2 separate regions of the Homo sapiens genome follow, and region 2 is linked to region 1. Evidence: fine-mapped expression QTL. Tissue or cell type: whole blood. Region 1 holds a variant in brackets; the other region holds the start of a gene. All regions are shown on one strand. Distances are between the middles of the regions.

What was found. PIP is the estimated chance that this variant, and not a neighbour inherited with it, causes the effect.
Region 2: it holds the start of ASB3, and the variant in region 1 is fine-mapped to the expression of ASB3 in whole blood (TOPMed, PIP above 0.99).

What each region holds. Positions count from the first base shown.
Region 1 is chr2:53,752,406-53,760,510 of GRCh38, forward strand. All of the region lies in intron 2 of ASB3 (ankyrin repeat and SOCS box containing 3), which reads right to left. All of the region lies in intron 2 of GPR75-ASB3 (GPR75-ASB3 readthrough), which reads right to left. Among named protein-coding and RNA genes, the nearest start is that of CHAC2, 11 kb to the right of the region's middle. The variant C/G (reference allele first, on the strand shown) is at 4,466.
Region 2 is chr2:53,782,178-53,790,277 of GRCh38, forward strand. It overlaps ASB3 (ankyrin repeat and SOCS box containing 3), which reads right to left and starts at 4,776. Exons shown (of 10, transcript NM_016115.5): 1 at 4,644-4,776. All of the region lies in intron 1 of GPR75-ASB3 (GPR75-ASB3 readthrough), which reads right to left. It overlaps ERLEC1 (endoplasmic reticulum lectin 1), which reads left to right and starts at 4,867. Exons shown (of 14, transcript NM_015701.5): 1 at 4,867-5,195. The coding sequence starts at 5,034. RefSeq lists enhancers at 4,266-4,924, 4,440-4,859.

The sequences.
Region 1 (8,105 bases):
CCCCACAGATTGAATACCAGACCACCACACATGAGCTGAAGAGGCCAGGCTCCTCCCCACTGCATAAGGTGAGAATTCCCAGTGGCTTCACCCCATTCTTCCAGTGCACAGGCAGCCCCTTATTCTGAGCCACTCCACATTGATTTATTTCCCTTTCTGTGCACGTGTTAAGGCACGGAATTTTTCGCCCCCATGGGCATGTTTAGGCAAGCCCCCTGTGCACAATGACCTGGGCAGCATTTGGCTGTCTCCTCTCTCTATCAGTAGGGCAGGTAAGAGTAACAAATAATTTAGAAAAATGAACAACACAAGCATTGAAGCGTGCCTAGACTTACTATATATTAAACCATGTCTTAAAGTTAGAAAAAGTGAAGTAATGTGCTCCTGGTACAAATGCAGAAAGGAAGGTACCCATCAGGGAAAGGAATCAACAGAAGCAGTAAGAGACTAAGAAAGATGGTCACTAAAAGGTCAGAGACCTAGACCGATGTTACATTACAGAAGCCAAGGAACTTTCTCTTGTAAAGTAGAAAAGATGTTCTCCTCCACTTAAAAAGAAAAAAAAGACATAAAGTTTAATCCTGACCATTTAAATATTATGCCTTACAGCAGAAAGAGTGAACCTTAATGTACGCAATTTAAAAAAAAAAAATCAACCAGGAGGTAAAAGGAAGGGTGATCCTAGGATAGCATGCAGACTGTGACAAAAGAATCTAATTGAATTACAAATATATGTCATAACCACACTGAGAGATAGAGAAAAAAGACACTGGTCTACATAACTTTGATAAATGATGCTATGACTGAAAACTGTAAGACTAAAGACAAAAAGAACTGCACATAAACACTATAGTCTAGTTGGTAAAGTTGTTTCTAGGAGTAGAGATTAACAATTCTGAAACCACTCTACATGAATACTAAGAACAAACAAATAAATAAACAGATGGCAGATCTGGGGGCCAGGTTTCTTACTGTTGGAGAGGAAGGTTACATATAAGGAAAGAGGGAAGGCTAGAATGAACCATGTGTTCTGGAGTAGAGTCCAGACATCAGTATGAATTCATGTTTAGCTTAATATAGATACAGATGGCTAGACACGGAAACAACTATAGATGTATATATACATGGGTTATAATATATAAATATATGTTCTAGATCTGTCTGCTGAAAGGGCTTAAAATCAATGACAGTCCAGTAGCAACAAGCACACCCAGTCCTCAGATCTTGGTTTTCTCTCTTTCTTTCTGTTTTTTTTTTTTGAGACAGTGTTGCCCAGGATGGAGTGCAGTGGCGTGATCTCAGCTCACTGCAACCTCCACCTCCCAGGTTCAAGCGATTCTCCTGCTTCAGCCTCCCGAGTAGCTGGGATTATAGGCGCACCACCACACCTGGGTAATTTTTTGTATTTTTTTTTTAGTAGAGACATGTTTTTGCCATGTTGGCCAGGCTGGTCTCAAACTCCTGGCCTCAGGTGATCTGCCCGACTTGGCCTCCCAAAGTGCTGAGATTACAGGCGTGAGCCACCATGCCTGGCCTTACATCTTGGTTTTCACTATCATTCTCCCGTAAAAGAAACCAGCACTCTTATGAAAATGGCTGATTCTAAGGCTGAGGTGGGAAACATACAAAGAGTCGGAGCACACTGTAGGTCCAAAAAGTAAAACGTGCTCAAAAAACAAACAATGGGGGCATGCAAAAGAGACAATAGGAGCCACTCTGAAAGGGCATCCTATGACCAAAACAATATGAGCAACAAAATAAATTACATTGTATTGGATTGTAACCTAAAGTACAGGTATAAAATAAGTAACAATGAGTTCATGCAGATATAAATGACTAAATATATAAATTAACGGGAGAGAAGAGATAAATCTCCCATGTAGAAGAATTCCAAATAATTTATGTAAAGACTACTCCATCAAGGAAGTAGAGTTTAATTCCCACTTCTGGAGTGCAAGCCACCCTTAGTGACTTGCATACACACTCATCTTGGGAAAAGGAAATAAAATCTCCTGTGTGATTATATATGAAGTAAAGAAAATAAAAGGCACTTCTCACACAGGTGAGAAATACTGAAGTCAATTTACTACTAACTTGAGATCTTGAAATATTTTACCTATAGAAAAAAATATATTAAGCTAACTTTAAAATCACTGGACCAGGAAGATAACATTTGAAGTTGGATTGAGGCTGCAACTTTGACTCTGCTAGAAATAATATGGGTTATACTTCGGGCCAATTACTTAAACCTCTCTGAGGCTCAGGTTCCATAACAGTGAAACGAGGATAAATTAGCTGGACCAACTCTCAATAGGGTTCAATAGAATTAGGTATATAGTCTGAATTTTTGTAAAATACAAATGCAGATAGATATGCAATTTAAGTACTGTCAAAGTTGTTACACATTTGGTAAAGTCTCCAAAGTATCATTTTAAGAAAATTTTCACCACCCACTATAAATTAGTTTTGAAAGTTCCAAAGATAAACTGCTTTCCTTAAACTGATACATGAGTTTTAGCAAAGGGATCTTATCTACCTTGTACTGGACCATCAACCACCACCTTCTCACTCTCTTCCCTTCTCTACAGGGGTGCTTCTTGAAAAAGAAATGGCTCATCCTATTCACTGTTTTTAATGCTTTAATCTCTCCTTACCCTCAAAGGAAGGCAAAGTGGCTTCTCCTTCTCAACTTATTGAAACTTTAAATGGTGTGGGTATTAAAGACATTCTTAATGGACAAACACAATGAGCACTTCAGGTCTTTCACAACTTGTGAGTTATTTCCTGGGAATACTTGGAGAATTAGAGCCACCTCAGCTGAACCAATGCCAGCCACTGACGCCTGTGTAGCAATGACAAGAGTTGGCCCAAACACTGCCAATGGAACCACACCCTATGTTTACTGACACAAAGTGTCTTTTTACTTATGAATAATAAACTTGTCTATTACTTCTTATAAAAGTGGTAGTAATGGGTGATAGACCGTTCTTTTTGTTTTCTGCAAACTCTAACAGGGAAAGTCAAACCACAAGGTTTTCAGTAGAGGAGATAGGTTAAGTATTAAGACCAGAATATTTCTCAACAGCTGAGCCAGAATTTGATGACAAATTTACTATGTGCCAATCACAAGTGTAATAAATGTCAAGATTATATCGCCACACCATTTACACAATTTATATCATCTTACTATGTTTTATTTAGGTATTATAAGAAAAGGTTATATATAAAATAATTTCCACAATGCAAGGAATTGTATTATGTGCAAACTTCTCAGACAACCCTCAGCAGAGACTTCATAATGCACACAAGATGCATGGAAGAAGTCAGTGAAGAGGAAGAGGTTGAAAGGCATTACAAAGAAAGTAGACACTGTTAAGAAAAGTGACGAGAAAATACCCGAAACACATATAACACCGAAGGATTAATATCCAGAATACATAAAGAGCTCTTTAAAGATAAGGCAAGGCCTAATGCAGTGGCTCATGCCTGTAATCCCAGCACTTTGGGAGGCCAAGGAAGGAGTATCACTTGAGGCCAGGAGTTTTGAGACCAACCTGGACAAAATAGTAAGACCCCCCCCCCACCTCTACAAAATATAGAAAATAAAAAAATTAGCCTGATGTGATGGCATATGTCTGCGGTCCCAGTTATTCCAGAGACTGAGATGGGAGGATCACTTGAGCCCAAGAGTTGGAGGCTGCAATGAGCCATGATCACACCACTGTACTCCAGCTTGAGCAACAGAGTAAGACCCCATCTCTTTAAAAAAATTTTTTTAATTAAAAAAATAAAAATAAGGTAAGTCTAGAACTTCCAAAGGGAAATCCTGCCTGTCTAACGACATCATTCTAATAGTAGAATCCAGCAGTCTCTGAAGAGACCCATCACTCAGATTTACATTTACTTGAGCTACTATATTCCCTTTCTTTGCTTAAGCTAGTTTGAACTAGGTTTCTTTCACTCAGTACTGAAAGAATCCTGATTAACATAGCATACAATTTAGCAGTATCTATAAATATTTTAACTTGGCATGGTGATGGTTAATTTTACATGTCAACTTGACTGGGTTAAGGGATGCCCAGATAGCTGCTAAAACATTTCTGGGTATATCCATGAAGATGTTTCAGGAAGACATTACCATTTGAATCAGCAGACTGAATAAACAAGACTTGCCCTCACCAATGTGGGCAGGCATCATGTAATCCTTCAAGGACCTAAAAGAAAAAAAAGGCAGGGAACCCCCTTTGGGTCCCCTCCCATTGTATGGGAGCTCTGTTTTCACTCTATTAAATCTTGCAACTGCACACTCTCTGGTCCGTGTTTGTTCCAGTTCAAACTGAGCTTTCACTCACCGTCCACCACTGCTGATCACCGTCGTCGCAGACCCGCTGTTGACTTCTACCCCTCCGATCTGGCAGGGTGTCCACTGCACTTCTGATCCAGCGAGGCGGCGCCCATTGCCACT[C/G]CCAGTCGGGCTAGAGGCTCACCATTGTTCCTGCACAGGCTAAGTGCCTGGGGTTCATCCTAATCGAGCTGAACAGAGCTGTAACACTCACCGCATGACCCAAGATTCCATTCCTTGGAATCCGTGAGGTCAAGAACCCGAGGTCAGAGAACAAGAGGCTTGCCACCATCTTGGAAGCAGCCTACCACCATCTTAGGAGCTCTAAGAACAAGGACCCCCCAGTAACATTTTGGTGACCACAAAGGGACCTCAAAAGCGGTGAGTAATATTGGACCACTTTCACTTGCTATTCTGTCCTATCCTTCCTTAGAATTGGAGGAAAATACCGGGCACCTGTCAGCCAGTTAAAAATAATTAGTGTGGCTGCCAGACTTAAGACTCAGGTGTGAGGCTATCTGGGAAAGGGCTTTCTAACAACGTCCAACCCTTCTGGGTTGGGAGCGTTGGTCTGCCTGGAACCAGCTTCTGCTTTCAATTTTCCTGGGGAGGCCGAGGGCCGACTAGAGGCAGAAAGCTGTCGTCCCGAACTCCCGGCGTTAGCTGGTTGAGATCATGGCGCAGCCGAAGTCTCTACTCAACAGTCGCCCGTGCATGCACCCCTACCTTTCCTTCTGACCCATACCTCCTGGGTCCCGACCATGACTTTCTTGAAAGTGTAGCCCAAAATTCTCCTTACTTCTGAATCTACTTCCTCCGATCCCTGCCTCCTAGGTACTAATGGTTCAGACTTCATTTCCTCTCCCAAGTATTAGAGCAAGTTGTATCTCCAAAGGGATCTAAGGAAGTTCTATGCTGTGTCCTTAGGTACCTAGGCTATGAACCCAGGGAATCTTGTCCCTGGTGTCCCAGTTTAGATATACAGCTCTCAACATGGGCAGTTATGTGGGACCCATTCCCCACCACCCTTGCCAGGGCCCCAAGTTTGTAAATGGCTAGGAGGATTGCTCTCTCATCATGTAAGATGCTCTCCTCCCCTGATTTTTACCCAGCTTATCCCTCTGCAATACAATCTCCAAGCCTTGGCTCCTTGGCCAGGGCCTTGAAACTCATGACCCAGTACTTTAACAACTGGAACTGGGTCTATGACAACATAATAGATCAGGATGAAAGCGAATTAAGTAACTCAAGGAGAGAAGAGACAGAGAGAGAGAGAAAAGAGAGGGAGAGAGAGAAAAAGAGAGATAGAAGTAGTAAAGAAAAAACAGTGCACCCTATTCCTTTAAAAGCCAGGGTAAATTTAAAACCTATAATTGATAACTGAAGGTCTTCTCTGTGACCCTATAACACTCCAATACTACCTTGTTGTCAGTGTAAACAAGGGCGTAGCCTGAAAACACTGAGACCACTGACAACACATAGCCTTCCTATCAAAAATCCTTAACCCAGTAACCCACGGAAAAAGGCACATGGGATAAACAGGATCCATCTCTCAAATTTCATACCGGCAAGGACTTAATCCGGGGCAACAAAAAGTTTAAGATTGATAATTAGGGCGTATTCCTACAAGGGAAAAGGACAAAGGCCCTAGTGGGCAAAAACTCTACCTCAATCCTAACTCAAAAGGTTACCTACACCCTCTCTGAAAAGAATTTGCATAAGAACTGTTGTTTATGGGAACGCATCTTGATGGGGCAGCTGGGTTGTTATAAAATACTCAGGAACCCAGCCCAGCTCTAGAACTCACCCTTGAGCGCAAAGGCAATATTGGGCATGCTGGTAAAGGACCACTAGAATCCAGCAGCCCGGACCCCTTTCTTTGTGGTCAAGAAAGGTGGGAAAAGGGGTGCAGGACTGCTACATTGGTGAGTGTAACTAATCCGATAAGCAGAGGTCCATGGGTAGTTGTACACCCTGGAAAGGAATAAGCACTAGGACCACAGAGGACGCTCTAGTCCTCTGGGATAATGCTCATTGGAAAATGACTAGAGGTGCTGGCATCCCTATGTTCTTTTTTCAGATGGGACATGTTCCCCACAAGGCAAAAACGCCCCTAAGATATATTCTGGAGAATTCGGCCCAGAGTGTATGTACCTTTTTCCCTGTCAGACTTGAAGCAAATTAAAATAGACCTAGGTAAATTATCAGATAACCCTGATGGCTATATTGATGTTTTACAAGGGTTAGAACAATGCTTTTATCGGACATAGACAGATATAATGTTGCTGCTAGATCAGACGCTAACCACAAAAGAGAGAAGTGCCACCATAACTGCAGCCAGAGAGTTTGGCAATCTCTGGTATCTCAGTCAGGTCAATGATAGGATGACAACAGAAGAAAGAGAACAATTCTCCACAGGCCAGGAGGCAGTTCCCAGTGTAGACCCTCACTGGGACGCAAAATCAGAACATGGAGATTGGTGCCGCAGACATTTGCTAACTTGCGTGCAAGAAGGCTAAGGAAAACTAGGAGGAAGACTATGAATTATTCAATGATGTCCACTATAACACAGGAAAAGGAAGAAAAATCCTACCGCCTTTCTGGAGACACTAAGGGAGGCTTTGAGAAAGCATACCTCTCTGTCGCATGACTCTATTGAGGGCCAACTAATCTTAAAGGATAAGTTTATCACTCAGTCAGCTGCAGACATTAGAACAAAACTTCAAAAGTCCGCCTTAGGCCCGGAGCAAAACTTAGAAACCCTACTGAACTTGGCAACCTCAGTTTTTTATAATAAAGATCAGGAGGAGCAGGCAGAACGGGATAAACGGGATAAGAAAAAGGCCACCACTTTAGTCATGGTCTTCAGGCAAATGGACTTTGAAGGCTCTGGAACAGGGAAAGGCTGGGCAAATCGAATGCCTAACAGGGATTGCTTCCAGTATGGTTTACAAGGACACTTTAAAAAAGATTGTCCGAATAGAAATAAGCCTCCCCCTCGTCCATGCCCCTTATGTCAAGGGAATCATTGGAAGGCCCACTGCCCCAGGGGACGAAGGTCCTCTGAGTCAGAAGCCACTAACCAGATGATACAGCAGCAGGACTGAGGGTGTCCGGGGCAAGCACCAGCCCACGCCATCACCCTCACAGAGCCCCGGGTATGCTTGATCATTGAGGGCCAGGAGGTTAACTGTCTCCTGGACACTGGCGCAGCTGTCTCAGTCTTACTCTCCTGTCCTGGACAACTGTCCTCCAGATCTGTCACTATCTGAGGGGATCCTAGGACAGGCAGTCACTATATACTTCTCCCAGCCACTAAGTTGTGACTGGCGAACTTTACTCTTTTCACATGTCTTTCTAATTATGCCTGAAAGCCCCACTCCTTTGTTAGGGAGAGACATCCTAGGAAAAGCAGGGGCCGTTATACACTAGAATTAGGAGAAGGAAAAAGGGTAAATATATATAAAGACTCTAAGTATGCTTACCTAACTCTCCATGCCCATGCAACAATATGGAGAGAAAGGGAATTCCTAACTTCCGAGGGAATACCTATCAAACATCAGGAAGACATTAGGAGATTATTTTTGGCTCTACAGAAACCTAAAGAGGTGGCAGTTTTACACTGCCAGGGTCACCAGAAAGAAAAGAAAAGAAGTAGAAGGGAACCGCCAAGCAGATATTGAAGCCAAAAGAGTTGCAAGGTAGGACCCTCCATTAGAAATGCTTACAGAAGGACCCCTAGTATGGGGTAATCCCCTCCAGG
Region 2 (8,100 bases), 30 kb after region 1:
AAAACAAACAAACAAACAAAAAAACAATGGATTACTCACTCTATGCAAGGCAAACTAAGCACATACATTTTCCTCCGCTTCCTAACAAAATCGCACTGAAATGCACTCATTCATTCTGGAAGAGAAAGCAGGTAGGATTATGCTGAGGATTAAGCCAGTGCAGAGAAAACTGCAGTCCAGAACACACACACATGCATACATGAGAAGGCTATAGCAATGTAGAAGACATTCTTGCCAGCAGAGCCTGGAGAGGTACCAATCTTAGAAACAAGCAGAGGAAGGACGTAGGACTAAAATCAGAATTATTATAATATTTATATGAAACAGCAAGCCAAACTTTTTACCACAGCCCTTTACACACAAAACGCCTGGCAGCAACAGTATTTGTTTCTGGCTAAAACCACATCTATTTTGTTGTTATTGCTCTTTTTAATTTAACAGTCTACCCTGGAAGCCTTTGAGCATCTTCATGTTCCATAACAAAGCATTCCTTATTTGGGTACAGGGTGGAAGGAGAGGAGGAAAGAGGCAACTCGTTTCTTGCACTTCACTCAAGGACCCTAAAGTTAGACCCAACAGCTAGTACCCTGCTCACTTACAAAAGAGCTCAATAATTTTTTTTTTTTTAGATGAAGTTTCACTTTTGTCATCCAGGCTGGAGTGCAATGGCGCAATCTCGGCTCACTGCAACCTCCGCCTCCCAGGTTTAAGTGATTCTCCTGCCCCAGCCTCTTGAGTAGCTGGGATTACAGAAGCCTGCCAAGACTTCCGGCTAATTTTTTTATTTTCGGAGAGACAGGGTTTCACCATGTTGGCCAGGCTGGTCTTGACCTTCCAGACCTCAGGTGATCTCTCAAAGTGCTGGAATTACCGGTGTGAGCCACTATGCCCCGCCAAGAATTTTTTTTTTTGAAGTAAAAGCACAACAGACAGAAAGGATGAAAATAAACAACTGACCTGAAAGAAGCAGAGCTATTTCCGGGAATGGGACATAAATATTTAAAAGTTATAAGTGTTATCCTCAAAGAAATTCATGTCATGAGAACAATGCATCCATTAAAAATAACTAGATGACTAGAAACTGTGGGGAAAAAACCACTGAAAAAAGAAAGTGAAAAGAACTGAAAATCAAGGAAATGGACCTCTTGGATTGATCCTTCGTATTATGTATTTTTTCTTTTTATATTTTTCCTCTGTATTTGGAAGAATCTATCTAAATGTATTTGGAAGAACCTATCTAAATTCTGAATAGAACAGAGAAAATGTCAAGAACATAATTAAAGAAATAATTGAAGAAAATTTCCCAGAAGTGAAAAATAGGATTCATAGAGTGCCAAGAAGGATGAATGAAAAAAGATTCACCACCTAGAAACACTGATAAAATATCACAGAACCAATGATAAAGAAAACAGTCTAATAAAATCTTCCAGAGAAAAAAGTATGATACCTGCAAAAGAAAGAGACTGGCATTAGACTTGTCATCAGATACACTAGACACAAAAAGCAAGAGAATGTCTTCAGAGTTTTGAAGAAAACAAAATGATTGTGGACTAAGTCTATTCCCAAGCTATCATTAAATGAGCAGGCAAGGTAAAGGCATTTTCAGACATATGAAGTCTGTGGAAATTAAATTACCTGTTTAATCCTTCCTGAAAAAAATTGCTTGAAATTAGTTATACCCCTACAAGGTGGGAAAAAAATCTATGACAAATGAGGACATGGAATACATAAAGCAGTAGACCTAACCCAGGCATGATACAAAAAAATCTCAGTAAACAGGTATGCAACTGACTTGTAAAGCAACTAGTCTAAATTACATGTGTGAGAGCTGGAAATACAGCTTCAGGAGCAAAATGAGTTTATTTTAGCAAACATGGTGCCATTATTAGGAAGCTAATAGGATACCTTAATTGGCAGAGGTAGAATTACATTTTTTCTCTGCAGATGCAATCATACTTAATAGTTTTATAGCGAATGATGATTGTATAATTACAATATGGTAAATAGTTGATAAGTTTTCAATGTTTAAGAATCAACCTATAAATAAAGCATAAAAGACTTGTACTGATTGATGTCCTGTGGCTCCTTAAAATGTGTAAAACCCAAGTGTAGCCCGACCACTTTGGGCACATGCTGTCAGGACCTCCTGAGGCTGTCTGTGACACGTCCTTAACCTTGGCAAAATAAACTTCTAAACTGGTTGAGACTTGTCTCAACTACTTTTTGGTTTTCATCCTCTATTACCTTCCTGAGGCTGCTGTAACAAATGACCACAAACTGAGCAGCTTAGACAGCATAAATTGATTGTCTCACAATTCTAGAAACTAGAGGTCAGAAATCAAGATGTCAGCAGGGCTATTCTCTCTCTCTGAAAGCTCTAAAGAAGGATTCTTCCTTGCCTCTTCCTAGCTTGTGGTGATTACTGGCAATCTTTAGCATTCCTTGTCTTATAGACACATACTGCAATCTTGCTGCCTCCTCCTTCCTGGCATGGCATTCTCCCTGTGTGTCCATGTGTATCCAAATTTCCCTCTTCTTATAAAGATACCAGTCACCAGATTAGGGCCCCCTTTGATTCAGTATGACCTCATCCTTACTTGAATTATATTTGCAAAGACCCTATCCCAAGTAGTTCACACTCACAGGTTCTAGGGGATAGGACTTAAACATGTCTTTTTGGGGAACACAATTCAACCCACAACACCCCCTACAATCAATTTTCCACACAGCAGCCACAATGATCTTCACAAATGTACATCGGGTCCTGTCCACTCTCCTGCCTACAGAGCTGTCTCCCTGGCCTCTTTCTGCTTCTCAAACTTCTTCTACCACTTTCCTCTTACACTCCAGCCACACTGGCCTTCTTTCTATCACTCCAACACATCAAGCTCATTCCTGCCTCAGGGCCTCTGCCTAGAAATTTGTCTGGCTCCCTTCTTTTCATCATTCAAGTCACAATTCAAATGTCACTTCCTCACAGAAGTCTCCTCTGACTTACGTACTAAAAGCAACACATCCTACAGGTATTGTCTTTCACATAACCTTAGTTTCTTTGCAGCACTTACCAATACTAGAAATTATTTTACTTATTTAAGTTCCCCTCTTACTTGAACATCAGCTCTATTGAACACAGATTCAATCACTATAGCCCTAAATGCTAAAACAGGACCTCACAGACAGTTTTCATTTTTATTCCGTCAAATACATCTCTTTTCCTTCATGACTTAAGACTAGTGCTTAGCACAGAATAAATGCTAAAAAAAAAAAAAATTGACTATTACTACTATAATAGTTTGCAATTATTTGTTTGTACAATCTCCCTGCCTAGACTGTGTGACCAAAGACAGAAACCCATTTATTTGGCATTTTACCAAGCCCAGGGGGGCCAGGCACAGTGGCTCAGGCCTGTAATCCCAGCACTTTGGAAGGCCGAGGAGGGCGGATCACCCGAGGTCAGGAGTTCGAGACCAGCCTGGCCAACGTGGTGAAACCCTGCCTCTACTAAAAATACAAAAATTAGGGTGTAGCGGCGCGCGCCTGTAATCCCAACTACTCGGAAGGCTGAGAAAAAGGAGAATCCCTTGAACTCCAGAGGCGGAGGTTGCAGTGAGCCAAGATTATGCCTCTGCACTCCAGCCTGGGTGACAGAGCGAGACTTTGTCTCAAAACAAACAACAACAACAAAAATCCCAGGAGTCTGGATCACATTAAGCATTAATAAGAAGTGCTGAATATAATTAGCGAATAACAATTCTGAAGAAAGTTATCTTCTTTGATACTATGGATTCCTGATGTTAAAAAAAAATTTTTAAGATAGAATATGGGACTGTCCTTCCTGCTTTTTGATTTGGTTCAAATCTGAGGAAGTGGGGGCGACCAGTCTTTAACAGATCTAGCAAGACTGTCGAGCTTTAGGGAATGGTAATTTCTCTAAAGCCAACACTCTATGTCCATTATATTGGAGATCAAAACAGACAATGGCATTTTTTCTAAAGAGGGGGAGGGAAAAACAAAACTTTTTGTCTAATTTGGGGATGCAGTCAGACGTGACTTAGTTCATAAACACACACATTCATCTGGCGCTAAACCTCACATAAGGAACCTTACCAGCTTCCTTGATAAAACAACACCCCAACACTTCAATCTAGAGATGGAGGGTAAAAATGTAGGGTTGTGATGTCTAGCTGCCCATTCCACGAGAGTCGCCCACCACGCCAAATTCGGAGGCTTGCGGTATTCACCTACGGGGAGATGGCGGGCTACCTCACCCCAGGTTTCCCCTAACACAGAGTTGCAGTCGCTGAACAAACTGCCCTGCGTTAGTCAGAAGCTGTTAAGTAACGAGATGGCCACGGTCCACAGCAGAAGAGATGGAGATAAGCCTCAAGCGGGAAAAATGAAGTGTACAAATGCCAAATGCGGAGAAAAAGAAGAAAAGCTGCAAGAAGGCAGGTCAGTCAGGAACACCGCCATTTCTCACATCTCATCGCTACTTCGAATTTTCTCATCTAAGGACCCGCACCCGCACGGTTCACACTGTCTTCTTCCCGCTATCACTCCGTGTGGGTCAAACCTCTGCCTGCCCACTGGAGAGCAGCGGGAATGGCTTCAGGAAGCGGCTGCCGCCTCCGAGACTCACCGACCTGCCGTGCTGCCACTTCTACACCGAAATGGCTGGTCCGAGGCCGCGTCTCCAGAGCTGCGTCCCAGAAGCCCCCGCTTTCGATCCCCACCGCGATGCTGCAGCCGTCCGAAAACGAGAGACGCGCAGGCGACGTCCCGGCCCCCGTAGGCGGACGGCTCCGCGACCCCCGGATGTTGATATGTCGTCTGCCCCGGAAACGGTGACAGGAGGCTCAAGGGGGCGGAGGCGGCGTTGCCGGGCTCTCCGGAAGGAGACGTGGCGGCGGTTGGGCCGGTGATACCCGGGCGCTTTATAGTCCCGCCGCCTCCTCCTCCACCTCCTCCTCCTCCTCCTCTCCTCCTGGAGCAGAGGAGGTTGTGGCGGTGGCTGGAGAAAGCGGCGGCGGAGGATGGAGGAAGGAGGCGGCGGCGTACGGAGTCTGGTCCCGGGCGGGCCGGTGTTACTGGTCCTCTGCGGCCTCCTGGAGGCGTCCGGCGGCGGCCGAGCCCTTCCTCAACTCAGCGATGACATCCCTTTCCGAGTCAACTGGCCCGGCACCGAGTTCTCTCTGGTCAGTGCCCTCACTAACCCCGCAGCCACCCCTCCTCCTGACACTAAGGGTTCGGCCTCTTCCCTCGGTTTTCTTTGCTTTTTCTCCCCAAGACCTTCTCTGCAGACTCTTACCTTCCCCAAGCCAAAGCTGCTTTTATGCAGCGTTCATTCATTCGTTCGTTCTCACGTTATGTGGATGCGTCCCCCTTGCTGAGCATTAGGGATCCAGCAATCACCTGCTCTCCACCTTTTCAATTCTGTCGCACTAGACCTTGCTTCCCAACATTCCCACCCTGCAGAAGCAGCTTTCGTAGAATAACGTCAGGTGCACTTACTCATCTTCCTTTCGGAAAATTAACTGTGGCTCTTACTTCACCAGCAGACTTCTTTCCTTCAGTATTACATGTCACCCTGCCCACACCACAGTACTTCAGACTCGAGTTCCCTCTCTCGTATTCGTTCTCCCTCAGTTGTATACACACACGGACATACGCAAACGCACAGCTCCAAGGGAACTTTTTCCTTTCCTAGTTGTTTCTGAGAGGGCTATTTGGCCTGTGAGATGTTAACGACCCTTTATGCAGAATATCCTTTACAGTTTTCATGTATTACGACTGTTATTTGAGTCCCCAGAACATGAGCTTCTATGTTGAGTTTTCCTGTAGTGAAGAACATTTGTAACCTCGCGGAAATGAAAATTCCCTCTTGGGGGAGTGGACCGCTGAAAAGTCTTCCTGTCCACGTGTACCTACTGCAGGCTAATAAATATTGTACTCTTATGACACTTACCATGTAGTAATTAACTCATTTACTTCAAATTGAAGTCCCGGAAAAAGCAAAATTTTTTTAAACTTTTTATTCCAATTACCTTCAAGCATTCAACTTGCAATACTTTATTATATTCTTTCATTACCATTTCATTGAAACAGTAAGTGACACTATGATGTCAAAACAAGATGTGTCAAGTTAATGGATGTTATTACCACATAGCTTTCTATTTGCAAGTGTTAGGGGTTTTTTGGTTTGGTTTGGTTTGGTTTGGGTTTTTCTGTTTTTGTTTGTTTTTTGAGACAGGGTCTCAGTCTGTTGCCCATTCTGAAGTGCAGTGGTACGGTCACCACTGGCTGCAGCCTCGACCTCCTGGGCTCAAGAGATCTCCTCAGCTTCCCAGTAGCTGGGACTATAGGGAAATCCCACCACTCCTGGCTAATTTTTTTTTTTTTTTCTAGAGGCAGGGTCTCACTATGTTGCCTAGGCTGGTCTCGAACTCCTGGGCTCAAGCAATCCTCGTGCCTGAGCCTCCCAGAATACTGGGATTACATGTGTGAACCAAATGTTCTGAATTTATCTAGGTAAATATTTTTCTGGGACGTCAAATTTCTCTTTGTATTAATGCCACAAAATATTGATACATTGAAATACCTATGTAAAATTTTGTTATGAATCAGATATAACTTTAGCAGGCTTGGAAGAGAATACTTTAATACCTGTTGTTGTATCCAAAGAGCACACTTGGAGTGAATATGGCAGATGTTTGAAGAATTATGTCATTAAAATTTTTTACTCTTGGCACCTGTGTTTTTTTTAATTTAAAAAAACTTGCTGATATGCAGCCCTGAAAACTTACTATAAGCGAGCGACTAAAACTAGCATTTTTAGAGGTCACTACCAAATTGTCATTCCATTTTCTTTCAGTCTTAGCATTTGCTACACCAACTTTTCACGTATCTAACAATTTTATTTCAAAAAAAAAATGCTTTGGCCATGTGCGGCGGCTCACATCTGTAATCCCAGCACTTTGGGAGGCAGAGGCAGGCGGATTATGAGGTCAGGAATTCAAGACAAGCCTGACCAACGTGGTGAAACCCCATCTCTACTAAAAACACAAAAATTAGCTGGGCGTGGTGGTGCACACCAGTGCTCCCAGCTACTTGGGAGGCCGAGGCAGGAGAATCGCTTAAACCCGGGAGGTGGAGGTTGCACTGAGCCAAGATTGCACCACTGCACTCCAGCCTGGGTGACAGAGTGAGACTCTGTCTCAAAAAAAAAAAAAAAAAAAAAAATTCTTTTTTTAGAAGCTGGAGTGCAGTAGGTATTTATAGGCATGATTATGCTCACTACAGCCTCAAACTCCTGGGCTCAAGCCATCCTTCTGCCTCAGCCTCCTGAACAGCGAGGACTACAGGTGGTCACCATTGCATCTGGCTTTTTTTTCTTTAAGTCTGTGCTACTTTGAGAAAAATCTAGAGTGTTCTGTGAATTGTCACAAGGCCTATGTCCTTTATGTAAAAATAAGCCACAATAGTCATTATCATTGGTCTTTTGATTTTTTTTAATACTTCTATAACCTTAAGGCTTCCCTTTGCATTTAACTGAAATTACTGGCTGGGCACAGTGGCTGACGCCTATAATCCCAACATTTTGGGAGGCCGAGCTGGGTGGATTACTTGAGCCCAGGAGTTTGAGACTAGCCTAGGCAACATGGCGAAACCTTGTCTCTACTAAAAATAAAAAAATTAGCCGGGCATGGTGGCACATGTCTGTAGTTCCAGCTACTTGGGAGGCTGAGGCAGGAGAATCGCTTGAACCTTGGAGGCAGAAGTTGCAGTGATCCGAGATCATGCCACTGCACTCCATCCTGGGCGACAGAGGAGTCTGTCTCAAAAAAAAAAAAAAAAGAAAAGAAAAGAAACCACTACTCTCCTCACCTGGCGCTGCCATTTTTTTTAATGGGCCAGTTGGTTGGACATTTGTGTTTGTGACAGAGTCTCGCTCTGTCACCCAGGCTAGAGTACAATGGCGCCATCTCAGCTTACTGCAACTTCTGCCTCCCGGGTTCAAGCGATTCTTGTTGCCCAGCCTCCCCAGTAGCTGGGATTGTAAGCGTGCGCTACCACACCTGGCTAATTTTTTTTTGTATTTTT